Regions from separate parts of the Homo sapiens genome. Here region 2 is linked to region 1. The links come from fine-mapping of genetic effects on gene expression. A gene starts in region 1. The other region holds a variant in brackets. All regions are shown on one strand. Distances are from middle to middle. Region 1 holds the start of RIN2 (Ras and Rab interactor 2). Region 2 overlaps RIN2 (Ras and Rab interactor 2).

The links. PIP is the estimated chance that this variant, and not a neighbour inherited with it, causes the effect.
Region 2: its variant is fine-mapped to the expression of RIN2 in fibroblasts (GTEx, PIP 0.91).

Annotation. Positions count from the first base shown.
Region 1 is chr20:19,755,454-19,760,825 of GRCh38, forward strand. It overlaps RIN2 (Ras and Rab interactor 2), which reads left to right and starts at 2,805. Exons shown (of 13, transcript NM_018993.4): 1 at 2,805-2,874. RefSeq lists an enhancer at 3,194-3,768.
Region 2 is chr20:19,997,110-20,002,481 of GRCh38, forward strand. It overlaps RIN2 (Ras and Rab interactor 2), which reads left to right. Exons shown (of 13, transcript NM_018993.4): 13 at 3,504-5,347. The coding sequence ends at 3,827. Among named protein-coding and RNA genes, the nearest start is that of NAA20, 18 kb to the right of the region's middle. The variant C/G (reference allele first, on the strand shown) is at 2,470.

The DNA.
Region 1 (5,372 bases):
TATTGGGGTCAAGCGGCATTGCAGAAGAAAATAAGGCATTTAGGTTTTAGGTCAGGTGTGAGTTGAAGAGGTTTTAAGTTTTTGAGAACACAGGCTAAGGGAGAACAAGGAGGAATGGAAGGTGGAAGCCTACCCATAGTGAAGGAGGCAAGCCCAGAGAAAAGAGTAGAGACATGGAGAAGGGGTGGGGAGTTCTTGCCCTCCAGAAAAGCAGAGAAAGGGTTGGGGCACGGAAATAAGGGATTGGGGCACAGAGATAAGAGGTTGGGGTGCGGAAATAAGCGATTGGGAGGTTCTTGCCCCTAGGAAAGCGGGACTTGCCGCTAAGGGTGAAGGAGAAGGGGTTGAGGGGTACTTGCCCCTGCCCCAGGAAAGGCAGAGAAGGGGTAGAGACAAGGAGAGAAGGGGTTGGGGTACTTGCCCCTTCCCCAGAAAAGCAGGACTTGCCGCTAAGGGTGAAGGACCAAGGCAGGCGTCCCTGCGTGGTCTGACACCCTTGAAACGTGGGTGTATAATCACAGAGGCATCCCTGCAATGATTAAACACCAAGGGAAGGCTGCCTTCCCAGTCCGTGACCGGCGCCGGAGTTTTGGGTCCACGGATAAAACGTGTCTCTTTTGTCTCTACCAGAAAATGAAAGGAATTGAAATTAAGAGAAGGGAGAGATTGAAGTGTAGCGCCAAGATTGAAAGGAGAAAGAGGTTGAGGGATAGTGAGGCAAGTTGGAGAAGAGAGTAAAAAGAGGCCGCTTACTGGATTTGAAATTGGTGAGATGTTTCTTGGGCTGGTCGGTCCTGAGGTCGTAGGTGGATCTTTCTCACAGAGCAAAGAGCAGGAGGACAGGGGATTGATCTCCCAAGGGAGGTCCCCCAATCTGAGTCACGACACCAAATTTCATGCGCGTCCGTGTGAAGAGACCACCAAACAGGCTTTGTGTGAGCAACATGGCTGTTTATTTCACCTGGGTGCAGGTGGGCTGAGTCCAAACAGAGAGTCAGCAAAGAGTGGTGGATTATTATTAGTTCTTATAGGTTTTGAGATAGGCGGTGAAGTTAAGAGCAATGTTTTGTGGGCAGGGGTGGATCTCACAAAGTACATTCTCAAGGGTGGGGAGAATTACAAAGAACCTTCTTAAGGGTGGGGGAGATTACAAAGTACATTGATTAGTTAGGGTGGGGCGGGAACAAATCACAATGGTGGAATGTCATCAGTTAAGGCTATGTTTACTTCTTTTGTGGATCTTCAGTTACTTCAGACCATCTGGATGTATACGTGCAAGTCACAGGGGATGCGATGGCTTGGCTTGGGCTCAGAGGCCTGACACACACCATCTATTTAATTCTGTGACCTGCTCCAGACACAAGCACTCTGGGCCCCCATATTCTTTTTCTTGTTTTCCCTATCACCGACCTCTTCCAACACCCCAAATAATTTACTTAGGGATGGCCATGGTTTACCCTCTGTCTCCCACTTCTTCCCCGCAGGCCTTCAGCTCCCCCAGGTGAGGGAGACCTTTGCTTTGTTCACCGACATATCCCAAGCATTAGAACTGCGCCTGGCACCAGCAGGTGTTCAATTATTTATTTAATGGGTGACTTGGAGCAGAAACCGAAGTGCAGTGGACTGTTTTCCTGGGATCTGAGCTGATGATAAATGATAAATAAGTCTTGGGATTTTAGAAGGCAGGAATCACGAAAACCAACACCAATGAAATCCAAGTCTCCTCTGCTACTATCTGAAGTGGAACAGAACAGAAATAAGGTCTGTTTTCTTTCCGCTTCGCTGTTCTGTTTCTGTCCAAAACAACCGTCTCTCTGACACCTTCGAGGTGTCCCTTTGTCTCTTTGAGGTTCCCTCCGTGACACTGGCTACTTTGTAACTCTAACACTGTCAGCAATTAATTCCCAAAGGTGAGGTCCCCGTGGGAAGTGGGAAAACCCAGCGAATCACCAGGGACCCGCCTGATTCCGAAAAGGCTGGATGCTGGCTGGGAACCGGCCCCGCAGCTCCGGCGTCCCCGCCTGCCTGCGCGGCCTTCAGCTGGGGTTACGGAGGGCTCCCAGCGCCGATCCAAACCGCGTTCCAGGCGGGGTGGGCGGGCCCCTGGCCAGCGAGGCCGAAGCAAAACAACCCGCCCAGGCGTCCAGAGCGTATCCAACCCTGGAGAACCTGCCCCGGAACCAAGAGCCGCAGCCAGCTCAGGCCTCTCGAGTGGGGCCTTTCCAGCCCCTGCAACAGATCCCGGGATCTGTAGTTGGGCGGAGGGGCTCGTTATGGGAAAGGGGTGCGTGCGCGTTTGTGCTAAAACAAGAAAGGCAAGAATCTCCGAGAACAAAACTCTGGTCCTCGCCTGGCCGGGGACCGCAGAAGACAGGGGCGGCAGCGCCAAGGCGGGTCAGGGGCCGGTCCAGCCAAGTTTGCTCCGGCTTAGATAAACTTTCTGATGGCAGTTTTTCCTGGTTGCAGCCTGGGTTCCTTGTAACAGGGTAAGCGTAGCGGGTGGTTGTCAAGAGGGGCGGAGGCTGGCGGTTACAGGGAATGGAGGGATGGGCCGGACCTGGGGTCGCGCAGGCGCCTTGGTCGCTGCCTCCGATCCGATCACCCCCGCCCCATCTCCTCTGCGAGCTCAGGAAGGTGGCTGGGGGAGGGGGATGGCTCCCTACTGCCGAGGGACGGCCCGAGGCAAACACAAAGCCCTTCCCTCCCCTCCTCCTCTTTCCTCTCCTCTCCCCTCCCCTCCCCTCCTTTCTCCCCCTTCCTCCTCTTCCTCCTCCTCCTCTTGCTCCTCCCGGGCGGGGAAACCCAGCCCCGCGCTCGTCTTTGGGGCCACCGGTCGCCCCCGCCTCCGGGACCTGCGGGGAGGGCCCGCGAGAGGTAAGGGGCGGTGGCAGCGGAGACCCCACCCCCTGTGCCCGCACCTAGAGAGCCCGGAGAGGCTCCGGGCACGGGCGGGGCTCTCTGGGGTTCCAGACGTGGGTGCTGCTGTGCGCACTCTCTCCCTACTCCGGAGGGGACTTGAGGAAGACAGCCAGAGCGCGTCCTCGGGGATCGTGGGGAACGGAAGGGGGAAGGGGGATCAGGGAGTGGGGACAAGGGGCAGAGTGACATTCCGGAGCGCGAGGTGGCCGCTGGTCCCGGCAGGGTCACCGGGTGTCCTCAGCTGACCTGTGCGGGGCTGGGGTGAGGGACAGCTGGAGGGTGCAGGCACTATGGCTCGAGGTGCGGAGGTGCGGGTGTGCGTGCGTGTGCACCGGACGGAGTTTGGTAGGGACCTTTGAGGAGTTCTACCTGCAGGGCTGCCTGTGGGGTGTCAAGTGCTCCCTGCGCCTGAGCGCGCGGGTCAGACCCGGTGTCGCACAGCTTTGATCCCCAGCGCGGACCCCACTGGTGAGTCCAGCCAGTGTGCAGGGCAGATGCTCCGACCGGAGATTTCCTCCCCCGGGTGGAAAAGCAGGAGGGTTGTTGTGTCCGGGCAGGGGGCACTTGGGCTGTCGCGGTGATTGATGGCTGCGCAGCGGGCGGAGGAGGAGCCCCGGATTCCTGCCGGGAAGGGACGGGGCCACTTTCCCACTTTGAGGCCTCCCCGCCCCCTTCTGGGCTTGGCCTCCACCCTTGGCCTGGGCTCCCACCAGCTCGGCGTCCACCCACCGGCGGTGGCGCGCCCCTCGACCGCGCGGGGACAGCAGGATTTGCAGAAGTTCAGCTTGAAAGCCTATGATATGTTGCCAAGAAATACAGGGCAAGATCGGTCCCCTGGGCCCTGAGAGGCGCCTGTCTTCTCAGAGCTCTTAAATCCCTGGGGCTTTCCTAATTCCGCAGTGTAGCGGCACTTCCTTGCGCGGTTTTGGGCACATTGGGGTTTCTTAGGAACACGCTGTCATCGGTAAGGAAACATCAGAGTACTCTTCGACCAAAAGGACTGTAAATACTGAAGCAAAAAGAAACACTTGCTGGGAGTGCAAAGGGCTTACTGGGAAAAAAGAAACACACAGGGCAGCACTCCATCATTAAGATAAATAGTATTTTAATACAATCTTTTTAACAAAACCAAATTGAATGTAAAAAATTCATGATAAGCAAAAATCAACATTTTAAATACAGGTGGGTGTTGTTAGAACCCTGCTTCATAGGCCGGGTGCAGTGGCTTATGCCTGTAATCCCAGCACTTAGGGAGGCCAAGGCAGGCAGATCACTTGAGGTCAGGAGTTCAAGACCAGCCTGGCCAACAGGGTGAAACCCCATCTCTACTAAAAATACAAAAATTAGCTGGGCCTGAAGGCATGTGCCTGTGGTCCCAGCTACTCGGGAGGCTGAGGTGGGAGAATCACTTGAACCTGGGGGCAGAGGTTGCAGTAAGCCGACATTGTGCCACTCCACTCAGCCTGGGTGACAGAGTGAAACTCTGTCTAAAAAAAAAGAACCCTGCTTCATTGTTCAATGGGAACAGTCATATCCAGTCTCCCTCCCCCACCTCCCCATTTGTTTGTTCCCTTGCCTGGTGGTTTGAGAGTTGACAGTGGCATGCAACAGATTGAGCAACTCTGGCTTCAGATGTAGTCACGTTCACTGAATGCAGAGCTTTTATTAACTTTTTACCTAATTCAAATGTAGGAGGATATTGTCATAAGTGGATATAGAGGTGCTAATTTTCCTTTTTGCCTCAGGTTCCAATATTGCCTCTGGAATACTCATGCACTCCCGTGCTTTGGCACCTCCAGAGAGAGCATCACAGGCTAGGGATGGGTAGGGTCCCGGGACAGTGAAGGGCCCTTGCTTTTGGAACTTGGGAAGAAGGCTGTTGACAGGAGCTTTTGGGTTTGGAGACTTGCTCTCAGTAGTTGGAGGCTGGAGACACGGGGAAAACCAACCTGCTATCAAGACCTTTGTCTGGAAACATTCTCCTGCAGACAGTTCATCAGAGCAGAGGAGGAAACTGAAATAGCCCACACTTGACCTCTAGTGTAGGGCAGGTGGGAGGGAGCTTGACTCCCAGGATGGCTATGGCGTGTGCTTATTTAAAGATAACTTCGCAGCAGCACTCTTATCCCCACCCAAGGTGTCCTGCCATACACCTTATCCAAAGTCAAGGGTCACTACCCACTTCAGGACTTCCACTTTCCAGAAAGAACCTCCTTGCTTAGCTAAACCCTCTTCCTCTGCTTGGAGGACACAGATGAATCAGGTATCACAGATGAAACACAGGGTATGCTACCCTGAGAGGTCCATGCTCGTGTGACCCATTAATGGGAGGCCCATTCTTCACATACTCTCTGTATTATAGTGCTTTGACCTTGTGCCCAATTCCCCTTGTATATCCAACCTACCTAATGAACCTTCAAGAATCCTAATAGTTTCAGCAAGAAAGATTTCCC
Region 2 (5,372 bases), 240 kb after region 1:
AAAGGAGGAGGAAGCACTTGGCACAGACGTTGGAGATTTTGTTTCATCAGGAAACAGCCGCTGTGTTACGCGATGCAATTGGCCTAGTTTCTCTTTGGGAAGAGGGAGAGGAACAGCGATGTCTCCTTCCCTTTTCTCTCGCCCACTCTCCAAAACAGAAGACCCCAGAATCTCAGCAGCAGCAGCAACAGCTATGGCAGCCGTCCACGGCGCAGAGTGACCAGGCGAGCATCTGAGCGAGTCCTGCTCAGGTTCCCTGGCCAGGGCTTTTCCTGACCGTGAGCTGCTGCTTGGGAATGTGGGACTCCCAGTGAGCTTGTTTCTTAGAATGGACAGGTGGGTTAGGGCTATAGAAATCTTTACCCAAGGCCAGGCATCAGGGCTCACGCCTGTAATCCCAGCACTTTGGGAGGCCAAGGTGGGCAGATCACCTGAGGTCAGGAATTCGAGACCAGCCTGGCCAACACGGTGAAACCCTGTCTCTACTAAAAATACAAAAATTAGCTGGGTGTAGTGGCAGGCACCTGTAATCCCAGCTACTTGGGAGGCTGAGGCAGGAGAATCGCTTGAACCCAGGAGATGGAGGTTGCAGTGAGCCGAGATCACGCCACTGCACTCCAGCCTGGACAACAGAGTGAGACTTAGTCTCAAAAAAGAAACAAAGAAATCCTTACCCAACACAATTCCTGATTTGCTCATTGTCTATGAAATAATGAGTGAGTTGGCAAATGTCTGCAAATAATATTTTGAAGGTTTTAAATTAAATGATAAAACCTTCCTGTGGTTTGTTTCTATGTTCCCCATGATGAGTTTCCAAGCAGGGATGTGGAAAGCAAGACAGATTTGTCTACACATCCAGATTCACCTGCTTTTTTTTTTTTCTTAAGACAGAGTCTCGCTCTGTCACCCAGGCTGGAGTGCAGTGGTGGCACGATCTCTGCTCACTGCAACCTCCACCTCCCAGGTTCAAACGATTCTCCTGCCTCAGCCTCCGGAGTAGCTGGGACTACAGGTGCTCACCACCACACCTGGCTAATTTATTTTGTATTTTTAGTAGAGATGGGATTTCACCGTGGTGGCCAGGCTGGACTCAAACTCCTGGCCTCAACTGATCCACCCGCCTCAGCTTCCCAAAGTGCTGGGATTACAGGCGTGAGCCACTGCGCCTGGCCATTTTTTTTTTTTATAAGAGCTCTGAAAATAGAGGGTCAGATGAGGTGGCTCATGCCTGTAATCCCAGCACCTTAGAGGCTAAGGCAGGAAGATCGCTTGAGGCCAGGAGTTGGAGACCAGCCTTGGCAACAAAGTGAGACTCCATCTCGACAAAACAACCACAACAAAAAATTTTCAAGTTAGGTAGGCGTAGTGGTGCACACCTGTAGTCCCAGCTACTCAGGAGGCTAAAGTGGGAGGATCCGTTGAGCCCAGGAGTTTGAGGCTACAGTGAGCCATGATCACACCACTGCACTCCAGCCTGGGCAGCAGAATGAGACCCTGTATCAAAAACAAACAAACAAAAAGGCAAGCCCATCTTTGAAAGCCAAGATCAGCTCATTCTTCTCCATGATTGCAGTATGCTCAGAAATTCCTTCTGGAGCGCATAAACCTAAAGAGTGAGAATACACGCACTGCACTCTCCCCACCCTGTTGCACTAAGAAGGTCCCTGTGCCACTCAGTGCCTGCAGACCCCTGGGGTGCCATCATATAGCCATCCAGGGAGGGGCTGCCTAGGGCAGAACAGAGGAAGTGAAAAAAGTTCATTGTTCCTTTCCCCACCTGCCAACACACCCTCCTCCACCTCTTCACCTGGAGACCCTCAGACACCATAGAGCTGCCTTCTTCTGCAGCCGTCCCCTCCTGCCCTCATTGACCCTGCTCACCTTGGAGGTGCATGCCTTCTCAGAGTGTAACCGAAGAAGGAAATGTTCAGCACTCGGCTCAGGGGTCAAAGCAAAACCTCAGACCCAAAGCTCCATCTGGAACCCCTAAATCAGAGGCCACAGACACAGAGGTCTTCTCACATGGGAAGAGGTAGTACGTCTTGGTGGTAAAGGCGGTGGGGCTGCATCTGCCACGTCCTAGCTGTGTGGCTTTGGGCAAGTTACGTAGCCTCTCTGTGCCTCAGTTTCTGCACTAGTCAAACAGGGATTATGTAGACCCTGTCTCTTAAAAAAAAAGGTTCAAAGAGTGTCACTGTCAATCTGGGCACCTCCCACTAGCTCACCTCTCCTGCAAAGTCACTGGGCTAGCAAAAGTCCCCACTGGAAGCAGATATGAAACATATCTTACATGTGCAGAGCTCACTGTCCTTCCCAAGAGCTTTCCCTTCTGTTATCCCAGGAAACCCTCGTGGTGACCTTGCAGGCACCTGGGCAGAGAGCCCTCCTTCCCTTCACTGCTGAGCAGGGTTGCCAGATTTAGCAGAAAAAAATCTATTTGTTTTCTAGCTGAAACTCAAATTTAACTGG[C/G]TGTTCTAGATTTCATCTGATAACTCCACTGTTAAGGAAACAGAAGCAAAGTTATCTGGGGTCACAAAATCTAGGAGAGCCTGATGTGAGTTTAAGATTCTTTATGCCTGGTCTGGGCTTTGTATCTTGTAAGGCCACAGGTTTACATGTTTCATGATAGCATGTACCTGGCATGATTGCAGCACCTGAGCCTGCAAACGTCTTTGTTTAATTCCCTGCAGCACCACCTTGCATGTAATCAGCTCCATCTGCAAAGTATTTGGCAAAATCAACATTCTTCTCCTTCTGACTTTTTCCACATTGTGCCCAGAGCCACTAGGAGCCTTGTATTAGATTGAACTACATGAAATCACCATTTGGGGGAGATAAAAAATAGTCAAAAGTCAGCGCATTTTGTGTGTGTGTGATTCAACCTAAATGATTGCCCTTGCTTAGGATTTATTTAAAAAGTTTGTCAAAAGTGAACACAAGCCAGGTACAGTGGCATGCACCTGTACACCTAGCTACTCAGGAGGCTGAGGCAGAAGGATCACTTGAGCCCAGCGGTATGAGTCCAGCCTGGAGAATATAGTGAGATCTCATCTCTTAAAATGAAAAGAAGAAAACAAAAAGTGAGCACAGTACGTGCTTTTGTGTCTAGATATTTTAAATCTCTTTCTGCTGACTTCCTTCATACTCTTGTGCTATTTGGTTTAGTTTTCAAGCTGGGAATAAACCCAGCATTGGATGTGGTTCACACTCTTAAGCAGGGGTTTCTTAACCAGACCTTATGAGGGAAATGGAAAGATCAGAACCAGGGCTGCATGGACTTCCTGCTTCTTACAGTTGCAATGAATCATGTAGTCATCTTCGCCACTGTCCAAAGTCAGATCAGCCTCTTTCCTTGCCATTCGAAGCCTCGTGGCCTGACATCGGACATTATGACAGGAAAGGGCCTGGAAATGGCTTACAGTTACCCCCTCCCCTGGTCCCCCATCATGCTCACTATCTAGTTTTCTCTTCTGACTGTCTCAACATTCCTCTTCCACCTGCAGAATTACCTCCGAGTTGCATTTCAGGAGGTCAACAGTGGTTGCACAGGAAAGACCCTCCTTGTGAGACCTTACATCACCACTGAGGATGTGTGTCAGATCTGCGCTGAGAAGTTCAAGGTGGGGGACCCTGAGGAGTACAGCCTCTTTCTCTTCGTTGACGAGACATGGCAGCAGCTGGCAGAGGACACTTACCCTCAAAAAATCAAGGCGGAGCTGCACAGCCGACCACAGCCCCACATCTTCCACTTTGTCTACAAACGCATCAAGAACGATCCTTATGGCATCATTTTCCAGAACGGGGAAGAAGACCTCACCACCTCCTAGAAGACAGGCGGGACTTCCCAGTGGTGCATCCAAAGGGGAGCTGGAAGCCTTGCCTTCCCGCTTCTACATGCTTGAGCTTGAAAAGCAGTCACCTCCTCGGGGACCCCTCAGTGTAGTGACTAAGCCATCCACAGGCCAACTCGGCCAAGGGCAACTTTAGCCACGCAAGGTAGCTGAGGTTTGTGAAACAGTAGGATTCTCTTTTGGCAATGGAGAATTGCATCTGATGGTTCAAGTGTCCTGAGATTGTTTGCTACCTACCCCCAGTCAGGTTCTAGGTTGGCTTACAGGTATGTATATGTGCAGAAGAAACACTTAAGATACAAGTTCTTTTGAATTCAACAGCAGATGCTTGCGATGCAGTGCGTCAGGTGATTCTCACTCCTGTGGATGGCTTCATCCCTGCCTTCCTTCCTTTCTTTTTCCTTTTTTTTTTTTTTTTTTTTTTTTTTACAAAGAGCCTTCATGTTTTTATATATTTCATAGAAATTTTTATAGCAGTTGCAGGTAAACTGTCAGGATTGGTTTTAAAATATTTTTGTAACTTTAAAATATTCTATAATTATGCATGTGATTTTAACATTTAATATTCAAAAATAAATCTCTTGCTGGATTTGAGAGTATTGCATTTTTAAAGTCTCTCTTCTGTAACTGGATGTTTTGGCAACTTTGTGGGGAGAGACTGCTGGATTTCTTAAAGCAACGTATTCCTGACACTGGCCACAGAATGCCTTTGGAAATCGGATGTACTGTTCTCTTGTTCACGTTTAGTGGTGTTTTGCTGTTTTGTTTTTTAAACAAATGATGCTGAGAATAAGGAGAGAAATGAATGTAGAGAGAGGTAGAGAGAGAAATATGAACTCTAACAAAGGACTGAGGAGTGCAGTCTGCTGGTTCAGGCTCTTCAAAAGATGTAGAAAAAGAGATAGAAGGAACCACCTATGCTTAAAATACTGTAAATATGCAGTGAGGTTTGGCAAAATCTATTCCATGTGTGATTTGCTTGTAGAAACAATTTTGAAAGCCCCTTGAGGAAAATAAAAATCAAGAAGAACACTTTTCTCCCTTTTCCATACAAATTAAAACTTAACAGCATCAAATTATTGGGACCAGAAACCAAGTAATGTATAATGTGGCTTTTGTTGAGTTAAATAAGATGCTATATAATGGAGAAGAATTTGAAAATGCACAAAAAAATCAATCTACATTATCAGAACCTGCAGTGAAATTAAACTTATGTTAAATAAAACCAGTTTGCAGGTGCACAAACTATGAGGGTCTTGTATCCACGTAACACAGGTAGTTACAAAAACATGTTATTGTACTGTGTAAAGATGCATAGTCATCTCATTTGGTTGGCTTTGTACCTTGTACCTTTTTTAGCCTTGGCTTTTGTTGAACTAGAACCCTCAGCACATACTGTGTTGTACTTTTGTAAATGATTTTTTAAATGGAATTTTGCACATAATACATTGTAATACTGTATGATAATCATGTGTGAAAATAATTTTTGAAATATCCTTTGGCTGTTTTTTTTTTTCTTTA